3 linked regions of the Homo sapiens genome follow. The protein of the gene in region 3 interacts with the protein of the main gene of each other region in a pairwise test. Each region holds a gene or a part of one and is shown on either strand. Other genes may lie near its edges.

What was found.
Region 1: the proteins of CNIH1 (region 3) and SLC22A23 interact in binary tests that used the Homo sapiens proteins (3 or more experiments, as listed by UniProt).
Region 2: the proteins of CNIH1 (region 3) and HTR2C interact in binary tests that used the Homo sapiens proteins (3 or more experiments, as listed by UniProt).

The regions. Positions count from the first base shown.
Region 1 is NC_000006.12:3,450,326-3,454,080, forward strand, and holds part of SLC22A23 (solute carrier family 22 member 23), read right to left. Parts: intron 1-3,755.
Region 2 is NC_000023.11:114,846,046-114,849,800, reverse strand, and holds part of HTR2C (5-hydroxytryptamine receptor 2C isoform a precursor), read right to left. Parts: intron 1,799-3,755; coding exon 1,598-1,798; intron 1-1,597. UniProt on the Homo sapiens protein: G-protein coupled receptor for 5-hydroxytryptamine (serotonin).
Region 3 is NC_000014.9:54,439,828-54,443,582, reverse strand, and holds the start of CNIH1 (protein cornichon homolog 1), read left to right. Parts: upstream 1-2,208; 5' UTR 2,209-2,255; coding exon 2,256-2,336; intron 2,337-3,755. UniProt on the Homo sapiens protein: Involved in the selective transport and maturation of TGF-alpha family proteins.

The sequences.
Region 1 (3,755 bases), on a different chromosome or scaffold from region 3:
AGACGGAGTCTCGCTCTGTTGCTCAGGCTGGAGTGCAGTGGAGTGATCTCGGCTCACCGCAACCTCCGCCTCCCAGGTTCAAGCGATTCTCCTACCTCAGCCTCCCGAGTAGCTGGGAATACAGACGTAAACCACCATGCCCGGCTAATTTTTGTATTTTTAGTAGAGATGGGGTTTCACTATGTTGGCCAGGCTGGTCTGGAACTCCTGACCTCGTGATCCGCCCGCCTCGGCCTCCCAAAGTGCTGGCATTACAGGCGTGAGCCACTGTGCCCGGCCGTCAGTTCGGTATTAGGAAAAGAATTTAAGAACTTTTAATAAATCAGCAAAAATATCATGCATTTAAAATGTTTCGGAAGAAATGGACAAATTCTTTTGATGAGGTGTCAAGAAAATAGTAGATTCCATTAAATAAACACTTTGATTAGAACTGTGAAAACAGGTTTGTGTGTAAGGCATTTCAAAAGTGAAAACTAGTCATCATATGATAACTAGGATCATGGAATTGTGGGCTATTTTTAAAAGTGTTACTGTTGCAATGATATAATTATTTCTAGTCTTAATTAAATTGTACTTAAAGTCACTTTAAATAACTTCTACTCTTTAGCCCTAGAAAAAGGATACAAATTACTTCCCAGGATATTTAAGCAACTTTCAGGATAAAGGTCAGAAATCTTTGCAAATTCATGAGAACAGAGGAAATGCTACCAGAAGATTGGAGCTGGACAAACATCCTACATTTCAAATACAGAAAAAATTGGGGCAAGTTCAGCTGGCATTGATTATTGGCAAAAGTTCTAGAGATTACTCAAGAAAGTGCTGAGTATTAGAAACCAACAGATTCAGTCAGAACAATGCAGGATACACTGTGCAAATTATTATTATTTTTTGAGACAGGGTCTCACTCTGTCGCCCGGACTGGAGTGCAGTGGCGCGATCTCGCTCACTGCAACCTCTCACTCCCAGGCTTGAGGGACTCTCCTGCCTCAGCCTCCCTAGTAGCTGGGATTAGAGGCGTGCGCCACCACGCCCAGCTAATTTTTCTATTTTTAGTAGAGATGAGGGCTCACCATGTTGGCCAGGCTGGTCTCAAACTCCTAATCTCAAATGATCCATCCACCTAGGCCTCCCAAAGTGCTGGGATTACAGGCGTGAGCCACTGCACCCAGCCTGTGCAAATCATTAAGCGCAATATTTGCAAGTCCATGGAGTCTTTGTTTTTTTGTTTTGTTTTGTTTTGTTTTAACTTTGTTGACTAAGATCTCAGAAGTATCTGAGAACTTGGGCTGCGCAGGGAATGCTGGTGTGGGAGAAGCAAGCCAACTGAGCTGAGCTGCGGCCCTGTTTGTCCTTAGCTCTCCAAAACTTGCTGTCTATGTCACTTGGAAGGAATTTGATTCTTTTCTGCAAGGCACTGACAATACCTTACAACAGAGCTGGGAGATAAAATGCAGAGCTTGTGAAAGTCATCAGAAAGTTGAACACAGATGGTCCCCGGCTTAAAACGGTTCAACTTGATGATTTTTTGACTTGATGATGGTGTGAACACGATACACATTCAGTAGAAACTGTATCGATAAGGGCTGCTTTATTCACCAGAAGTGAAAAACACGATGGTTGTGTGAGTATCTGAAGTACACAACCATTCTCTTTTTCACTTTCAGTACAGTATTCCGTAAGTCACACGAGATATTCAACACATTATAAAACAGACTTTGTGTGAGATGATTCTGCCCAACTGTGGGCTAATGTGAGTGTTCTCAGCACATCTGAGGTAGGCTGGGCTAAGCCAGCATATTCAGTAGGTTAGGTGTATTAAATGTATTTTCCACTTTCAATATTTCCAACTGATGAGGGGTTTATCTGGACACAAGACACAACACCATCCGAAGCAGAGGAGCATCTGTACCTGGTTCTTGTACAGAACACATGGCACACTCAACTGTGTGTTCACTGACTTAAAATCCATGATTGGCACCTGCTATTAGTCTGGCTGGTGGCTCACACCTATAATCCTAACACTTTGGGAGGCCGAGGCAGAAGGACAGCTTGAGGCCAGGAGTTCAACACCAGCCTGGGCAATATAGCAAGACCCCCCTCTCTACAAAAAAATAAAAATAAAAATGAGCCAGGTGTGGTGGTGCATGCCTGTAGTCCCAGCTACTCAGGAGGCTGAGGCAGAAAGATCACTTAAGCCTGGGAGGTGGAGGCTTCAGAGAGCTGTGATATCGTACCACTGGACTCCAGCCTGGGCAACAGAGCCAGACGCTGTCTAAAAAAAAAAAAAAAAAAAAAAAAAAAAAAAAAAAAAAAGCCTAGAGACTGACCTTGGGTTATTATTCTTAATCAAAGAAAATAATGTATATGAAATGTTTTATAAACTATAAAGGGCTGCACAAAAGAAACTGACATTAATGTTGTCATTATTTTGAAGGCATTGCAGATTCTGCGATGCAAATTCTGGTACCAATAACAAATACAAAGGCCAAGGCAAAAAATAAAAAGATCCTAACGGGAGAGATCTAGAAACTCAAAATTGTTAAGATGAAACCTAAGTCATGGTCATGCTACATGAGCCTAAAACTGAGAAAATCCTGATTTCATCCACCACTCCCAGGAAAACAACATTGGAGGGGTTGGTGATCATGGTCTGGAAGCAGAAGTATGTCATGTCTAGTTTAAGCCTAATGAATCAACTCTAGGTTGCAGTAGGGGAAGGACAGTATCCATCAATCCCCTCTTTGGGTTAGAACACACAGGGCCTGGCTGGGTTGGATTCTGGGTACCATGCTTAAGAGACACACATGCCAACCAGAGCGATAAGTATGGCAAATTTTTGCACGTATGGAATAGCTTAAGTACTGTAGATTTTTCAGCCAGGAAAGAAGCTATTGAAAACACATTTTATTTAAGAAATAATTTTTTAAAAAAAATTATTCTGAGGAGCAAGTGGCACAAATAGGCATGAGTTAACCTGAGTTTTATTTACCAAAGTGTGCCTTCCTGCAAGGAAAAGCAACTACGGGATGGACTAGCTGCCTTGTTAACAAAGCACTCCCTTTCCATCGATGGAAGTGTTCAAACTAGGATGGATAACTTCATGTTAGAGATATCATGCAGAAGGCGAGAGAGGCTGGTCAGCCCTAAGATCCCTTTTAACTACAATAACCTGGGATTCTAACTGGCTTGACAGTTTCACGTGTGTAGGTAGGTGCTAGGATACCAGCAGCCACATGAGAAAGAGGTCCAGAACTGTGCCTGGTAGCTCTTCTGTCTTCCTCTCCCTTTCTGACACCTAGGGACAGAATGGTGCATATATTGTAGGGCACACACACGCTAAAGGATACATACTAAATACAGGATACATGCTGAAGACAGCATGAGGCTTATTTGCAAGAGAAAGATCATGGAACAGAGCAGGAAAGAGGCACAAAAGGCAGCTTCTCAAACCCTGAGCTTTTATCCACTGAAAGAAGGCAAAGGCTCCTTCCACTTTCTGCTTCTACTTGGGATGTGGGCTGACAAGCACCTGACCCCTGGAACTCCTGCACTCACCATAGTGTACATCCCACATTAGTGCATCTGATACAGTATTCAACATACACAGCAGCACAGGAAAAGTCTGCCTTCCAACATGCCAAAATGTGCTTGAAAAGCTCTTTGAAGCATTTGTTATGTGCTTGAAACACACAGAACACTGGGAAGGCAGTCCTTTATTTAGATCTTTTTTGTCTGTGAAAATCAATATGTCCTTT
Region 2 (3,755 bases), on a different chromosome or scaffold from region 3:
TTTGTTTGTTTATGCCCCAAAATTGGAAACCTGAATAATACGAAATCATCTTAATCCAATTTTAAGGCCCAAGATTTCTCTCATTTACATAGATGACTTGAACCAGGGCTGAATTCCATGTCTATGGTGATTTAATCCTGGTCGATCCTTATTCCTAGTGTCTGGTTTTTTTGTGATCCCAGAATTAAATTCAGGTTGGTTGGCCCTTGCCAGACTCTGTATTCCTACTCTAGTCCTCCATTGCTTGCGAGTCTGAAATGATCGTCTCCACCTGTCAGTCATATCTTCAGGTTTATAATGCATCATTGGCAAAAGTGAACTAGAAGTCATAATCATTTTTCTTGGGTTTTTGTCTTTTTCTGGATCTTAGCCAATAGCAATTTCTATTTCATTAGCTTCTTAGGGCTTTTAGTGTTTTATCCATGTGTTTATTTGCCTTTAGCACAAGAGTCATTGCAAATTACTCAGTCTTTCATTACTAGAAGCTGATGCAACAATATTCTGTCTGTGTATTTCCTTTGTAAGCACCATAAAAGCTGGCATCTTTTTAGATGAACTCTTTGTGATGGCTAGGGCAAAATCTGTGAACTCTTGAATTTGTAAGTCAAACTTACGTAAATTCATTTTTGTCTTTTGGGACAAGCTTCACGACTTTTTATTCAAAGGTGTCTATGCTATACACAGGCAGAACAATCTACAATAGAACAATCTTAAAACTTAAATGTATTTGATCAATAAACCCAGAGTCAAAATATTTAGATGATATTAGTGAAGATTAAATAGAAGTCTTGATCTTGTTGCACACTTTACCTCAATCTTTACAAAAACATAAATATGAAGAAAAATTATTTACACCAACTGGAAAAGGAAAAAAACATGAAAGTAAAACCCCTAAAGTCCAATTGTTTAAATTTCTTGGCTTTAATATTAGCACTGTTAAGGCATTTATGAATACCTCAAATATAAGCAATAAATGATCATTTCTTTCCCTTTAAACTGCTACAAATCTTTAAAGAAACAAATTTTTTTTTCTTTTTGTATACCCAGAATTCAAGAAGACAATTAAAACTGAGAGAAAATAGTACATTTTAGGTGTCATAGCAACAAAAATTTAGACATATTTACTTGATGATGATTTAGATTGCATTATTAATTTTTCTACTGAAAAGGATAGGAATTTAGAATAAAAATACTAAGGTTAATATTCTGGGATACATGTAACTTTTCAATATAAGATTGAAATGTTATATTTTTAAAATTTAGACTTTAATTAGACTTTATGTCTTTCTCATTTTCAAAGCATTTTAAATATTTCAAACATTTTGTATCTGTGTTGCAGAATTCATTGGCATACTAATGCATAAAATAATTTAGCAGCATAAATGGAAACTTTATATTTACATATTAATACACATTACATTCCTTTCATTATTGTTAACCTAAATATCAGATAAATAGGTTAAGAATAATTACTAAATAAAAGAACCCGATCAAACGCAAATGTTACCAGTCGACGTCTGTACGTTGTTCACAGTACATAATCCGAAAGTATTGAGCATAGCCGCTGCAATTCTTATGGCCAAAAAGTTTTATTTACCTATAGAAATTGCCCAAACAATAGCAATCTTCATGATGGCCTTAGTCCGCGAATTGAAACGGCTATGCTCAATAGGATTACGTATTGCTACATACCGATCCAGCGATATAGCGCAGAGGTGCATGATGGACGCTGTTGAAAATAAAACATCTAAAGAAATCCAGACGGGGCACAAATATCTAGGTAGTGGCCAGACATAATCTGAAAGAGAACAGAGAGAAGACAAGAACACGTCATCCAAATTGTACTGACTATAGTCTCAAATTTTAGTCTGCTTATATTTTCTCATAATCTAAACCTTTTAAAGAAAGTGAAATTTAGGAAGCATTATTTTCTATAGGGATGATGATGGTGATCATGATAATGATACCTTCAGCGTGACATATATTTTATTGAGGTAAAATTTACACAACATAAAATTAATCTCTTTAAAGTGTACAATCCAATGGCATCTAGTACATTCACAATATTGTGCAACTAGCATCTGTCTCTAGTTCAGAAACATTTCATCACTCCAAAAGGAAACTGCATACCGTTAAGCAGTTACTTCCCATTCTCCCATCAACCAGCTCCTGGCAATCTCTAATTTGCTTTTTATCTTTTTTTTTTAATTATTATTATACTTTAAGTTTTAGGGTACATGTGCACAATGTGCAGGTTAGTTACATATGTATACATGTGCTATGCTGGTGTGCTGCACCCATTAACTCGTCATTTAGCATTAGGTATATATCCTAATGCTACCCCTCCCCCCTCCCCCCACCCCACAACAGTCCCCAGAGTGTGATGTTCCCCTTCCTGTGTCCATGTGTTCTCATTGTTCAATTCCCACCTATGAGTGAGAACATGCAGTGTTTGGTTTTTTGTCCTTGCGATAGTTTACTGAGAATGATGATTTCCAATTTCATCCATGTCCCTACAAAGGACATGAACTCATCATTTTTTATGGCTGCATAGTATTCCATGGTGTATATGTGCCACATTTTCTTAATCCAGTCTATGGATTTAACTAATTTGGATATTTCATATAAATAGAATCATACAATTTGTGACTTTTTGGGTCTGGCTTCTTTCACCTAGCTAATGTTTTTGAGGTTTATCTATTTCGTAGCATGTATCAATACTTAATTCTTCTTTGTGGCTGATGCTGTTATCAATTGAGGTTTTTTTGGAAGCTGTTGTAAATAGAATTGTTTTCTTAAATTCTTTCATGGATTGTTCATCACTGTGTATAGAACTACAAATGTCCTGCAACTTTGCTGAATTCATTTATTAGAGCTATGTTTTGTGTTGACTCTTTGGGATTTTCCATATATAAGATCATGTCTTCTGCAAATAGAAATAATTTGATTTATTCTTTTCCAATTTTCCTCTGCCTTTTATTTCCTCTCTTTGCCTAATTTCTCTACATGGAATTTTCAGTACCATGATAAATAGAACTAATGAAGTTGGGCATTCTGCCTTTTTTCCCTGATCTTAGAGGAAAATCAGTCTTTCACTATTGACTGGGTTTTGTTTTTGTTTTTTATAAATGCCTGTCAAGGACATTTTCTTTTATTCCTAGTTTGTTGAACATTTTTTTATCATAAAAAAGTGATGGACTTTTGCAAATGCTTTTTCTGCATCAATTGACATAATCATGTGGTTTGCATACCTTCATTCTATTAATGTGATACATTACATTGATTAGTTTCTGTATGTTGAATCCCTCTTGCATCCCTGAGATAAATCCCATTTAGTAATGGGTATATAATATGGTGCTGAATTTAGTTTGCTAGTATTTTATTGAAGACTTTTGCATTTATATTAATAAACAATACTAATCTATAATTTTCTTGTAATGTCTTTAGCTGGCTTTGATATTAAGATAATGCCAGTCTAATAGAATATATTACAAAATGTTTCTTCATCTTCTATTTTTTAGAAGAGTTTGAGAAGAATTGGTGTTAATTTTTGAAATGTTCGGTGAAATTCAAAAGGAAAACTTCTTGTCTTGAGCTTTCATTGTTGAGAGGTATTTGATCACTGATTCAATGTAGTTACTTTTTATATGACTCTTCAGATTATTTCTCCTTGAGTCACTTTTGGTAGTATGTGTGTTTTTAGAAATTTTTACATTTCATCCAGGTTATTTAATTTACTGGTGTATAATTGTTCA
Region 3 (3,755 bases):
AGTGCTGATTGGTATATTTACAATCCCTGAGCTAGGCATAAAGGTTCTCCACTTCCCCCCGAGACTCAGGAGCCCAGCTGGCTTCACCCAGCATATCCCACACCGGGGCTGCAGGTGGAGCTGCCTGCCAGTCCCGCGCCGTGCACCCGCACTCCTCAGCCCTTGGGTGGTCGATGGGACTGGGCGCCATGGAGCAGGGGGTGGCGCTCGCTGGGGAGGCTTGGGCTGCACAGGAGCCCATGGAGGGGGTGGGAGGCTCAGGCATGGCGGGCTGCAGGTCCCGAGCCCTGCCCCGCGGGAAGGCAGCTAAGGCCCGGTGAGAAATCGAGTGCAGCGCCGGTGGGCTGGCACTGCTGGGGGACCCAGTACACCCTCTGCAGCCACTGGCCCGGGTGCTAAGCCCCTCATCACCCGGGGCCGGCAGGGGCGGCCGGCTGCTCCGAGTGAGGGTCCCGCCAATCCCACGCCAACCCGGAACTCCAGCTGGCCCGCAAGCACCCTGCGCAGTCCCGGTTACCCCTCGCGCCTCTTCCTCTACACCTCCCTGCAAGCTGAGGGAGCTGGCTCTGGCCTTGGCCAGCCCAGAAAGGGGCTCCCATAGTGCAGCGGTGGGCTGAAGGGCTCCTCAAGTGCCGCCAAAGTGGCAGCCCAGGCAGAGGAGGCGCCGAGAGTGAGGGAGGGCTGTGAGGACTGCCAGCACGCTGTCACCTCTCAAGATCTCATTACCTTGTCCAGGCTGGTCTTGAATTCCTGAGCTCAAGTGATCCTCCTGTCTTGGCCTCCCAAAGTGTTAGGATTACAGGCATGAGCTGCTGTGCCTGGCCAAAAGTAACTTGATAATTTGCACACAGGTGCCACATAATCCTGGTGGTACAGGTTGTACTGTCCAATACACTAGCCACATTTTACTTAAAGTGATGTGAAATTTAAAGTTCAGTTCCTCAGTCATGCTAGACAATTTACAAGTGCCCAATGGCCACATGTGGCTAGTGGCTACTGTATTGGGCAATGTTTAGGTATCGAAAATTTTCACCATCACAGAAGGTTCTATTGCACAGCACTGGACAGACCCTGCTTCTAAACTATTCTACGCAATTTGCTAGGTGAACGATCTTTAATGCAAATCTAAACATGGTCTTCTTTTGCTCAAAAGCCTTCAATGATTTTCTCTTCCATCAGCAGCAATCAGTTAATAGAGTTTTTTTCTTTTAAAAATGGTTGTAATGGAAAGTTAAATCAATTTTGAATCAATTTTGTGTGTTAAGACCAGCATTAAAAACAAGTAGCAAAAGAGAGAAGGGAAAGTACTTATGGATCATTAGTACAGTTTTGTGAAATTTTTGTTTTGGTCATATCTATATTTCTTTGCCTCTATAACTAGATTTCCACCTCTTCATAACTTGATGTCTGTATGATATTCCACTGGGTTGCAATGAAAAAAATCTTTCTAGTTGTGTGTGGTGAGCAAAAAATTTGGGCTTATGGGATAAGAAGTCTGAGCTCCGTAATGAAGCATTATAAGGCCCTCTATGATCTGATCCCTTGCTAATTCATTTCTAAGTCTCACCACTGTCTTGCACTTAGGTTCCATTAATACAGAATTGCTGCTGGTTTCACCTGAGACACGAAGCTTTATTTTTCTTTTCTTTTTTCCATCTCTGTTGCGTTTCCTCATTCTGAACTGTTTCCTTGGACTGCCAGTTCTACCTTCTTTTTGCCTGGAGAACTTATCATCATCTAAGGCCAACTTAGGAAACACCTACAGCAGGAATCCTGCCTAAATGCTCCAGGGCGGGCTGGCTGTCCTTCTTTGACCTTTCAGAGCATCCCACACACATCCGTTTACGGGGTTATAATAACGTAATTATTTATTTAGGTGTTCATTTCCGGCACTATACTAAGTTCTTTCAGTGCAGGTACTATCTTATTCATCTTTGTATCTGAAGCGAGAAGCGCGGTACCTGTAACAAACTAGGCATTCATTCAATAAATATTTGTTGAAAGAATAAACGCAAGAAGGAAGGAAAAATCAATCAACAACTGTGCGGACAATGTCAGTGCAACGCAGACTCCGGCCATCAGAGGGCGCCGGGGCGGCTGGGCTGGTGCGCAGGCGCGCTGAGAGGGCTGGCGCCGCGGCGGTAGCGGTGGCGGTCGCGGCTGTGGCCGGGGGAAGTGAATGGTTTTACCCAGAGGGCCCTGCGCCGCCTTTCTCCGCTGGCAACGGCGCCGCTCCCCGCTCCTCCTCCCCAGCCATGGCGTTCACGTTCGCGGCCTTCTGCTACATGCTGGCGCTGCTGCTCACTGCCGCGCTCATCTTCTTCGCCATTTGGCACGTGAGTAGCTGGGGCTGGGGAAAGGAGGGCGAGGCGGCAACACAGCCTCTTTTCGCCCCGGGCCCGCGGTCCGGGCCGCCACGGCCGCCGGGGCTTTGCGCGTCGGGGATGCGGCCCGGCTGGCACGGGCCGCGCGGCGAGGGGTCTGGGGGCCGCGGGTACTGGAGGAGCCGGGGCGCGCAGTCGCCAGGTGGACGCGCCCGCGTTGCCTCGGCACAGGCCGCGCGCACCGCTACTCCTCCCCTACTGGATGGGGCGGCCGCGGTCCAGGCGGGCGCCCGCGGTTCCGCGCTGCGTTCGCACCGACCTCTGCCGGCCCGCGGCCCTGCATTCCCGGGGAGGATGTCGACAGCGCGGTGGGACGGCCGTAGTGTGAATGAAGTTTTCCGAATTTTTGTTAATACAGATTGACTTTCTTTTAGGGTTTCCACAGAACTGTGGCCAAAATGTAACCTACTTAGGGTGAATTTCCAACTCTACTTTTCAGCACTTGTTCGGTGCTCTTCAAATCAAATCACTTTTTTTCTCTTTTTCCAGATTGTTGTTTCCTGGTGAACTTTGATGCAAGTTCAATTGATTACTTTGTTGATTGCATGTGCGCGTTTCCCCCCCAAATCATACTTTGACCGCTGGAGTTTCAACAGGCAGCTTTCCAAGCCACCCTTATATTCAGGATTGCTTGATTTAGTAGAGGGAGTTTTCATTTGATTTTGAGATGCTCAGAAACCTTAAGCTTTTCTGGGGCAGTATTTATTTCTGTTACACACATCATCATCACTATTGCAGGGTGGAAGCACAGCCTTACTGGTCCCTCTAAGGAAAAAGTCGTAAGTTCCCTGTGACATAGTTCTACAGAGATAAGAATTTCTGTTGCTTTAGCACAAAATTAAAAGCCTTGAGAGCCTTCTGGAAATCATTCATTAAAAATTTATCTCATACTTGCTTCTCTTTTCCCCATATTCCAGTGCCTTCTGGAATGTTGCTTTTAATTTGAATGACCGCGTTCACTCTTACGTAGATTTTAAGTCAGGTTTCATCATGCCAGTAACAAGGATTTCTATGAAACATACGGAGGGGCAGAATGATTAAACAGCAGCAGCGTCTTGTGCAAAAAAGTCTCGAAAGTGGAAGCATATCACAAATCCATTCCTTTTTGCTAAGCAGTGTGATTATGTTTACAATTATTTTAGGACCTGACTGCTTATTGTAATCAGGAATACTTATGTAGGCTATTAACTGTGTCGGAAATAACTGCTACCTCAGAATGCTTGTCAGTAGGAGCAGTAATTTGAAGAGCATCTTCAGCCCTGCTTTGATGGAAGAACAATACCTAAGATAATTTGGGATACAGACTAGCTCAACCTTAGTAGGCCTCTGATGAAAATGTGTGGTTCCATGGCCGGGCGCGGTGGCTCACTC